Regions from separate parts of the Homo sapiens genome. Here region 1 is linked to region 2. Evidence: fine-mapped expression QTL. Tissue or cell type: lung. Region 2 holds a variant in brackets; the other region holds the start of a gene. All regions are shown on one strand. Distances are from middle to middle. Region 1 holds the start of MSR1 (macrophage scavenger receptor 1). Region 2 overlaps MSR1 (macrophage scavenger receptor 1).

Region 1 (5,398 bases), 38 kb after region 2:
ATATATTTTATATATATATAAAATCTTATTTTATATATATTTTATATATATATAAAATCTTATTTTATATATATTTTATATATATATAAAATCTTATTTTATATATATTTTATATATATATAAAATCTTATTTTATATATATTTTATATATATATAAAATCTTATTTATACAGCCATTTTTCTAAATAAAAAATACAGCCATTTTTCTAAAATATAATTTTTTCTTTTAAACTTTTTTTCCTTTTCCCAGGGGGCAATGCTTCACTGATATAAATAATGATGTTATAAATATTTCCTTTTTTTTTTTTTTTTTGAGATTGAGTCTTGCTTTGTCACCCAGGCTGGAGTGTAATGGTGTGATCTCAGCTGACTGAAACCTCTGCCTCCTGGGTTCACGTGATTCTCCTGCCTCAGCTTCCCGAGTAGCGGGATTATAGGCGTTTGCCACCATGCCCAGCTCATTTTTGTATTTTTCACCGCGTTCATCCAGCTGGTCTCAAACTCCTGACCTCAGGTGATCCACCCTCCTTGGCCTCCCAAAGTGCTGGGATTACAGATGTGAGCCACTGCCCCGGCCATTATTTTCATAATTTAGCTTTCTTCTTTTAAAATGTTTCTTTAGGATAATTCATCATATGTGAAACTAAAAAGTGAAAGGAAAACTATTTTGAACTTCTTGGGCTCTACTGTCTTAGTGATCTTTAAAAAGATAACATAAATTTATAAATATTCCAGACTTATATGTGAATATGGCAGTTTCAAGCAAAATTCACTACCATTGAATAATAAAGCTTATTTTAGAATCATTTAGATTTTGATAAGAGTTAAATAATACCTAAAAGTGGTTTTCATTTTTATTTTTTATTATTAATGTAAGAGAGAGATTTCACTGTAATTGTCTGTCATACATTGTTCTTCTTGGGTTATTATCTATTCATATTCACTGCTTATACATCCCCACAGGTTTCTTTTACCTAAGCATGTGAATCAGCTCTTTATGTTTAATACATATTTACCATCTGTCTTTTCATACTTGACATGCATTCGTTTTCCTAAGATTTTTCCCTATTTAGTTTTTTTATCATATTCTTTCTTTTTTCTTTCTTTCTTTTTGTTTTTGAGATGGAGTTTCGCTCTTGTTGCCCAGGCTGGAGTGCAATGGCGTGATCTTGGCTCACCACAACCTCCGCCTCCTGGGTTCATGTGATTCTCCTGCCTCAGACTCCGGAGTAACTGGGATTACAAGCATGCACCACCACGCCCGGCTAATTTTGTATTTTCAGTAGAGACAGGGTTTCTCCATGTTGGTCAGGCTGGTCTTGAACTCCCGACCTCAGGTAATCCACCTGCCTTGGCCTCCCAAAGTGCTGGGATTACAGGCGTGAGCCACCGTGCCCGGCCCATCATATTCTTAAGGCCAACTTTATCTTCAACATTTGGAATAAATAATAAGCTTGTGATCCTCCTTATTATATAAAATAATAACTTTGATTTTTGTAACAGCAGTTGAATGTGTATATAAAATGAAAATTAAATTAAGATTATTTGTGAAACTAACAGCTTTATGCTTAAGGAACCCGTCTGTAAGACAGATTTTAGTAAGAAATGGAAATATTTATATTGTGCCTGATGTCACTGATATTCATCCTTGGTAGCAAAGAAGAAAGAGCATCAACTTTTGAATCTGAAATCTAGATTTGAGTATTGACTGTGACATCATTTAGCTGTGTGATCTTAGGCAAATATTTTAACTTATTTGAATTGAACTTTCTTTAGATATGTAAAATATGATCACAATATAAATTTAAAGAATTATTGCGAGAATTAAAAATAATTTTTGTAAATTGCCTGGTACACAGAAAACCATCAATATATGAATCCCTGTTATTTTAAAATATCACTTTTTTTTTAAATATGAGCTTTTCTTATTTTGTTCTCACGGAATCTTCATGAGGTACAAGTAGTATTTTCTCCATTTTACAGGTTAGGGAACTGAAATGTGTAAGTAACTAGTCAAGTTACTCAACTAGGGAGCAGGGGAGCTGGAATTTGAACACAGGCAGTCTACTCCCAGAAGATTAGCTCTTACCCACTGCATAAAACGGCTAATCACTGCATAAAACATCTGTAATCTCAGTTCTATGGTTTTTCTATAAGTATTTTTACCTGGTCAGTGCAAATGCCAACCTCCCATTATATGCTGTGTGAATCTTACTTAGTCTTCAAGATTAATCAGATTTCTAGCATCTCCATGAAGATTTATTTTTGATAGACTTTTTTCACATAGAAGTAATTTTGGCCTCGCCTATATTTTCATAGTAATTATCTATAGCATTTTCATACTACTTAAGGTGCTAGTAATTATCTATAGTACTTTCATACTACTTAAGGTGCTCAAATTACATTATGCCTATTTGGGGATATGTTTTAAATCATAAGATTCCGGAGCACAAAAAGAACTATATCTTATTTTTTGTATCCTTTCCCCACATCTAGTTCAATGAAGTGCATATAGTAGATACCCAGCCAATATTTGCTATATAATCAAGGGAAGATAATAAAAGGCATTAGATTAAAGCCAAAAATGTTCCATGAAAAGTTATGAAAGGAGAATAGGTGAAATATGTCAAATTATACTTTGAATAAAACCAGTATTTTAAACAAAATATGCTTAATTATATGAAAAAACCCCATTGCTGGTTCAAACTACAAAGCATTTAGTGTATTTCATATGTACTTGTGAACATATATGTTTTTCACTCATGGAAAATTTAGCAGAAATCCCTATTTTTTGATTATCGAAAAAAACCAAACCAAATTATTGCTGATACAATAAAGCATTCATCTCATCATACACACACAGACACACAAATATATATCACACACATGCATGCACACACACACACAGAGTACACACATAACAATCAATAGAAACAATTCTGGAAAAAACATTAAAATAAGCCTTTTTTTTTCTTTACCTTTCGTCCTAAAGAAAGCAGCACTGATTTATCCACTTCTCTCTCTTTACAATTGAAACCTAAAATCTTTATCTCATAGTATTTCAGCATCTGGTACATGAAGAAAGGAAATGACACATTCCTGCGTTGAAAATCTTTCTTAATGTGTTTCAATAGCACTCTCATCAATGCACAGGTTTGCAAAATCTAAATTTGTCAGATAACTCACTCTTCACCCCATTTAGGCCGCTTTAAAAAAAAAAGAGAAGTGAAAAGGAAAAGAAACAAGGGTTGTTGAAACAAGCACATAATTTACAGCAGATTGAGCTTTCCTTTTTTTTTGGAGATGGAGTCTCGCTGTCTCACCAGGGTGGAGTGCAGTGGTGTGATCTCCGCTCACTGCAACCTCTGCCTCCCAGGTTCTACAGGCGTGTGCCATCACACCCGGCTAATTTTTTGTATTTTAGTAGAGACAGGGTTTCGCCATGTTGGTCAGGATGGTCTTGATCCCCTGACCTCATGGTCCGCTCGCCTTGGCCTCCCAAAGTGCTGGGATTACAGGCGCGAGCCACCGTGCCCAGCCTGATCTTTCCTTTTTTATAAGTAATCTATGCCTTCTAAAACATACATTAATTCTCATGATCTCCTCTTTCACGTTACTATAATGTTGAGTAAAGACTCCATGTTTGGCTAGGTGTGGTGGCTCATGCCTGTAATCCCAGCACTTTGGGTGGCCGAGGTGGCTGGATCACTTGAGGTCAGGAGCTCTAGAACAGCCTGGCCAACATGGTGAAACTAGTCTCTACTAAAAATACAAAAATTGGCCAGGCATGCGCCTGTAATCCCAGCTACTCGGGAGGCTGAGGCTGAAGAATTGCTTGAACCCAGGAGGCGGAGGTTGCAGTGAGCAGAGATCGCACCACTGCACTCCAGCCTGGGCAACAGAGTGAGACTCCACCTCAAAAAAAAAAAAAAAAAAAAAGACTCCATGTTTAGAGATTCGAGTTTTTTTCTTAGATCCTTTTTCCTGTACCTTTATCCCTAGCCTCAAACACAAAACACGTGAAGAAAGAATATGATGCCTTAGTAAGAACAAGTAATAACCTAAAAGCACTCACTCCTGTTCTCTCTATAATGATAATAGCATTAATTTTTAGAGCACCAGACAAGTTGTTTATTTCCAGTAGTATAGTAGAGGGAAGGAATCTCAGGCATGGATCAGATGAAAGGGATGTTCTTTCCCTTCTGCCATCCATCAGGGTTTTATACAATTCAACTCCGTTATTTACTCACATTCAAGAAGTTCAAGTATGACTCACATGAAAACGTTCAACATTACATTAATGAGCTAAGTTTTACAACTGATATTTCTGGGAGAAGGTGTTTAGCTTATATTCCGTAGTCACTCTTTTGTGCCCAAACAGGAGAAATCATGCTTCCTACCAAAAGATGCCCCAAATTGCTGTGCCCATGGGCACCATCCTTCAGAAGACAATACGTCTGCAAGAAAGTATGCGGGAACAGCGCACGGTCTTTGAGAGATGCAAAGTAACAGTATTATTCAGTTATTCTTAAGGTAACCACTAAAAGGCTAATAGTAGTAGTAGGACAGGCATCAAAGTAAGCTGCATAATTTCTAACCAGGCAGCTTGAAGACTAGAAGTACGATCACAATTTGATCCAGCCTGGACCAGCATAAATGCTATTGGCTATTCCTCATCAAATTCTTACTGACACAGAACTGGAGACTACAAAACTCACACTCTTTCCTTTACAATTATTTGTACATGCTTCTTATTTTAAAATATAGTCCTTTTAGGTTTTTTTGTACAAAATCTGAAGTTTAAAATTTAGATATCCCTGACAATGCTACGTGATTAGAAAAGTCAGACTCTGGGAATAACAAGACACCAATCTCCCAAAATTCTATCCTAATGAGGTTTCTTTCTGTCAGTGTGCTTTATTTTCAGTATGTCTCTGTAATACTGTTTGGTGTATATCCACAGTGCTGACCACTTCCCTATGTGATGATTTCCACACTCTTCAGCCAATCTAATTTTTCATTAAAAAACTTCCCTTTTTATATGTCTAAATAGGTACTATATAATTTTATATAGTTTTATATATAATAATTATAGATTATGTAACATAATATTATCTATTAGGTCTTACTATATGTAAAAACACCTTTAGCAGGGAACCATGTTAAAAATGTTCAGTTCAAGCCAATGATTAATTGAGAACAGAGGTAATATGTAAAGGGTTGGGATTTTGCATTCATTCCTTCATTTGACTTCACAGCAACTTTGTCATATCACTTCCCTAATTGAGAAATTAATGTTTAGAGATGGTAAGTAAATTTCTCGAGATCAGAGTTATGAGTCATCAGAGCTGGTATTTAAACCCAGTCTGATTACAAAATTTGGCAAAATATAGTTTTT
Region 2 (5,398 bases):
TCTGCACTCATGCCCATTGGGGTTCAAATACCAGCTTTGCCACTTACCAGTTGCTGATTGACCTCAAGCAAGTCATTTAACTTTACTGTGCATTGCACCTGTAAAATGGGTGTATTATTTGTTTCTGCATCATCAGGCTGATGTGATAGTTAAAAGAGCTCATACACGTAAAACACTTAGAAAAGTGCCTGGCATGTAATGACTACTTTGTAAATGTTAGCTTTTCTTGTTCTCCTCCCCCTCTTCCTCATCCTCCTCCTCAGTAATACAATCATTATTTTTACCAGCCTGTTGTAAAGGCTTCTAAATTTAGTTTTATTAAATGATACGTACACAGTTAGCAGTGACATTTTTTGATTCACTGGCACAATTTGTTACTTCCAGAAAAAACCCACTTTCAATACTCAGGTGTAGAGCGACAGCCTGCAGCCAGGCAACATTCCTTACTCAGGTGTATATTTAAGGATCCTGTCCTTGCTGAAGCTTTAGGGAGGGGCCTTCTTGGGGCCATAGCCTATGGGAAGGGGCGGGCCAGGGTAAAGATATACGTGGATATAAACATTAATAAAATATGGTTCCTCTCTTCCAATATCTATGGGTAAGATGAGCTTTATTTTCTCTTCTGGAAGCACGATTCCTATGGTGGAAAATTCAGACTACGTAAGGAAGTAAATAGTACTGGTTGATGATGAAAAGTTTGCAGCCAGAGAAGCCTTCAGTTCTCTCGAGGGCATCTCATGTAGGTAGCCCCACCCATGCCTACAGGTCAAACTACCTTGTTATTGATCACATTGGGCATAAACAGCTTCTTAGATGGCCCACACAAAGTTTCCTTTAGAAAAGAAAGTTGCTTCTCCTTCAAAACATTGTTGTCATGGGTAAAATCAGCCCCTTAAAAGAAACTCACATGAGATAAAAAATCCTTGATCATGACATTTGCCTCCCTTATATTACTACTTATCATCCTGGAAGCGCTGTGAATTCAGAGATTCTGTATCTGTTTACACATACTCTATAGGGTATTGTAGAACACCAGGCCTGGAGAAAGTGCTCAGCACATAGTTTTTGAGTGAAAAGTGATAGGTCATTCTCCCTAGCATGCTTTCAAGGAAATAGCCCTCTAAAATAAATTTGTTATTATTTGGGGAATAAAGCATATTTAAACATAATATCCACCCTAGTATATGAATAATAATTCTACTATATTTAATGTATTAGTTATTTGAGGCTACTAGGACAACCACTTAGGTTTTGCAGATATTCGCATCATGATTGTGAGTCTAGGTGAGTTTGACTTGGTCAAGCTGAGTTTAGTAGGCTCAAATGGATGTAGAGATGGGGAAGCAATAAACCTGCTCAGATTAGAAAGCAGAATTAGTATGATTGTCCATCATATACTCTTTGCTTCCTGATTTCGGCATCAAATATAAGGCAATTAGACAATCTGGTGGAGAAACGAACAGAATGCAGCAAGACATCCAGAAATAATTCATTAGGAAAGATGCCTGGTATTTTGAATACTTTTCTTGTAGTGCACCAAACAAAATGGTAACCTGATAACCTAGAAGAGTCATTGATTACCCCAGGAACTCGACCTGTCTTTTATGAGGAACTGGGTAATGCCTATTTGTGTAAATGAGCAGTACCAAAAGCAACAAATTATGACATCACTTTTTACCCTGTAAATTTAAACCATGACAAATCGTTAATTTACAATAAAAAAAAAACAAAATCAAAGATTCTTTGCAATGGTGTCTATTTATAACATTAACACAAGCTGAAATTTATAAATCCTTCTATTTCATACATTCACAGTTCAGAAACAGCTGCAGAAGATTCTCCCAAGATGAAGCACTGTATGGCAAGATGTAGCCCAGACTGAATTTTTATGGTTGAGTTATAAAGCTCTGACAATTGCAGCCTGTATGGAGGGGGTGATAGACCCTTGACAATGGTAGTTCTGGCAGCAGATTTAATACTGGTTATTTCCTCTGCTTATGACATTAATGCAGCATTGTTAATATCTGATTAGCATTAGTCAAGTAGAAAGACTTTCCTGAATAAAAATTCTTTCCTGGCAAGGCATTCAAAAGCACATCAATACTAATACCACCTGACTTGGCATATTATATATATGGGTAGGATTGCTATTTTATATATATAAAACATGTGTACCTGGATGTATATCATCTATCTTCACATATAATATGCCATATATATTTATATACATATATATACATATATGTGCTTAGGCAGGTATCAAGTTCATGCTTCTCATTTTCAAAAATTTTTCTGATGTGACCAGGGCTAGTCAATACACTGATCAGAAAGAAGAACCTTTTATATAATCAAAAGACAGAAAAATAAGATGAAGTACATGGTATTTAGACATGTTTTGGTAACACAAACCATTCTACTTATAATTAGACCTTGCAGTATACTTCCTACCATCAAACGGCATGCAGGATATTTGATTTCAAGCCAAGGCTAACATGACAATCATGTTATTATCTTTTTTATTTTTTCAAGCAAAGAAAGTTCATGTTCTCTCTTCTGTGTCTTCTTTCAAAATATTTCTTTCAAGATTACAACTTAGAGGAAAATAATTTGAAACAGTTTTGCTCTTAGTAAAGCACAGAGAGTGACTGTCAGCAAGGTAAGTGTCATCCATATTTTAGCCAATATTTACATTCAGATTTCATTAGTTTAAACAGATATATTCCAAATACTATATAAGAAATATAGTCCAATTTGCTTGTGATTCATAACTCACTACTAGTGTGAGTTTTTATGTCTTAAAAATGAGATAGCTTGCAAATGTGAAGATGATTTATTCAACGCAAAGATAATTGTTGTACTCCCCTTCACATATGATCTACGGTTAGGTCTGCCTTATACTGTTTGCTGTCTATTATATACATGTCACTATCTAGACTTACAAACAATTCCATTTGGTTACTCTGGTTAAAGCATTTATTTTCTTCAACAGTCATGAGTAATGCTTATCATTCAGTGTATTATGTGATTAGGCTACTAGAACATTTACTAATCCCCCAAAACACACACACATATACACACATGTGCGTGCATACACACACACACACACATACACATCCTCTGCAGGATATAAATAAAATAGCAATCCTCCCCTACACATGTACCTGGATGTATATCATCTATCTTCACAGTATATGATTAAATAGCTAAAATTACCATACCTATTGGACCTGGAAATCCTC[G/A]TGGACCACTTTCTCCAGTGGGACCTCGATCTCCTTTTTCACCCGGGGGTCCAGGAGGACCTTTAAAAAAATTACAGTTACTGATCATAGTTGTAAAGCATAGGAAAAATGGGTTAGTCATCTGTCAAGGTACTTATATAAGGAAATCCAAAGTCTTCTATTTGTTGTGCAATAATATAGAATGTATAATACTGAACTTCATGAATGGAGGAGTATTCTGCTATTCAGGAATATAATGCCCTATACTAATGAGGATGACATTGCCTCAAAGTAAACAACCTAACAGTATATTAAATGTGAGTGTGCCTAACACTTTTCTATGTTCTGAGAACCTGGGGGCAGAGAAAAGACAGCAGGCTGGCACAAAGTCACATTAGTGTTGTACGCATCCTAGGCAGTTAGACATAGAGTTAGATATAATACAGAATTAGCTACTATACGGAAAATCTATAAGTAAGAACTTAAAAGACATTTGTGATACCCTCAAGGGAAAGGAAAATTCACACATGGTAGACAACCAGAAAGCACTTTGTTGGAACTGACCATAAACTCAGATATTTGTCAGTGAACTGTAGATCGGCGTGAATGGTGATGGTTGAAGTCTTCATTGAGAAAGTAGGATATGAGGGGTACTTTCAAGAATGAAGGGAAGGGGAAGGAAGACAATTCCTAGGGATTGAGAAAGGCATGAGGAAAGGCAGGAAGGTGAAAATGAGTAGAGGAATTCTTTTTTCAAGTAAAATATTAAGTAGAATTTCTAGGTTGCTATAAATACTGTAAACAAAATGGAGACATTGCAAGGAAAACTTTGGTCTCATCATTTTTTTTCAGGTGGCTCTCCTGAGAGCTGTAACTAAACAACCCTGATTTAGCCATTTGTATTTTCTGTGTCCAGCAAAACAGATACCTGCTCATCATGCCTTTAAAATGATTATACCTAGCATGTCTTTAGAACTCAAAGGTAATCCTACCTAAACACCATGTTCCATATGGAGTACAGAGGACAAATAATCTCTTCTTTATCTAAAGAAGAGCACTTAGTTTCCTTTTCAACACCAGAAGAAAGAAACAGAAAGAAACATTATTCCATAGATTCACCACAGAATAAGGAAATAGTGATATTTTAAAGGAAGCATTTTCAATTGCTAGTTTGGACACATACATAGTCCAAGGAAAACAAATATATACAGCATCCCTGGTTAGAATGCACTTGTTTACAAATTTTAATCAGGTGGGAGACATAATACCCGAAGAAATCTAAGAGGGGGAACCACATAAATAAATAAAGATTATCTCATGAATAAGTATATTTTGTACATTTTGTTGTTGCTTATTTTGACATCCTTGACTCTACTTCTGTCTATTCCTCTGGTATGTCCCATTTTCAAGGTACAATTTGGGTTTTAGAGGCCCAAGATATCATTATTACTCTTCTCAATAGAATGTCCCTTTCTCCTCATATGCAACATTGGACACACATTTAATTGTATTTTTATTATAAAAGCAACTCTACTTATAGGAAACATAAAAGCCTAGAAAAAGCGTGAGGAAGAATATAATTCGTAGTTGTGTTATTTTAACTAAAGATCTTTACCATTTCTTTCCTAAGTGTGTACGTGTATTTTTTTTTTCCACATAATCGTCATGCAAACAACATGTTACAGGGCTTTTAGAAATTAACTGGTGTATTATATTCTAAGGTATAGCTTAATTGCTGCGAGACATATATTTAAATGCTGCACAAGAAATGTAAGATTTCTGTATCAAAGGGAATCTCTATGTGCCCCCTATTCCCTGCAGAAGAATGTAGTACTTCCCAAGAAAATGGAGTTATGGTAACTTCCATAACCATGAACGCAGCTGCATCCATTCAACACTACATAGCAATGAATCCCAGGGGAGGGGGGCAAGCAGGACAGACACTCAATTTATGCCTGAATTTTGTTGAGCTAATTGAAGGGAAGCACAGGGATAGTAATCAAGGATGGTATTTTGAAAAAAGTGCGCAAGCAAAGATTTCAGTTTAGTAACTCAGGATCCAAAGCAAGACGCAGACATTCCAGGAAAAACTAGAACATGAAACAAGAAGAAACAAGGGACACAGAGAATAGATCTAGACTCTTAGCCTCTGAGATGGACTTCTCACCATTTCTTTGGTA

Evidence for each region. PIP is the estimated chance that this variant, and not a neighbour inherited with it, causes the effect.
Region 1: MSR1 starts here. The variant in region 2 is fine-mapped to the expression of MSR1 in lung (TOPMed, PIP above 0.99). The same link has a PIP of 0.9 or more in aorta, blood mononuclear cells, nasal epithelium, tibial artery and whole blood.

Annotation. Positions count from the first base shown.
Region 1 is chr8:16,189,620-16,195,017 of GRCh38, forward strand. MSR1 (macrophage scavenger receptor 1) reads right to left here and starts at 3,032. Exons shown (of 10, transcript NM_138715.3): 1 at 2,979-3,032.
Region 2 is chr8:16,151,846-16,157,243 of GRCh38, forward strand. MSR1 (macrophage scavenger receptor 1) reads right to left here. Exons shown (of 10, transcript NM_138715.3): 6 at 3,219-3,299. Among named protein-coding and RNA genes, the nearest start is that of MSR1, 38 kb to the right of the region's middle. The variant G/A (reference allele first, on the strand shown) is at 3,240.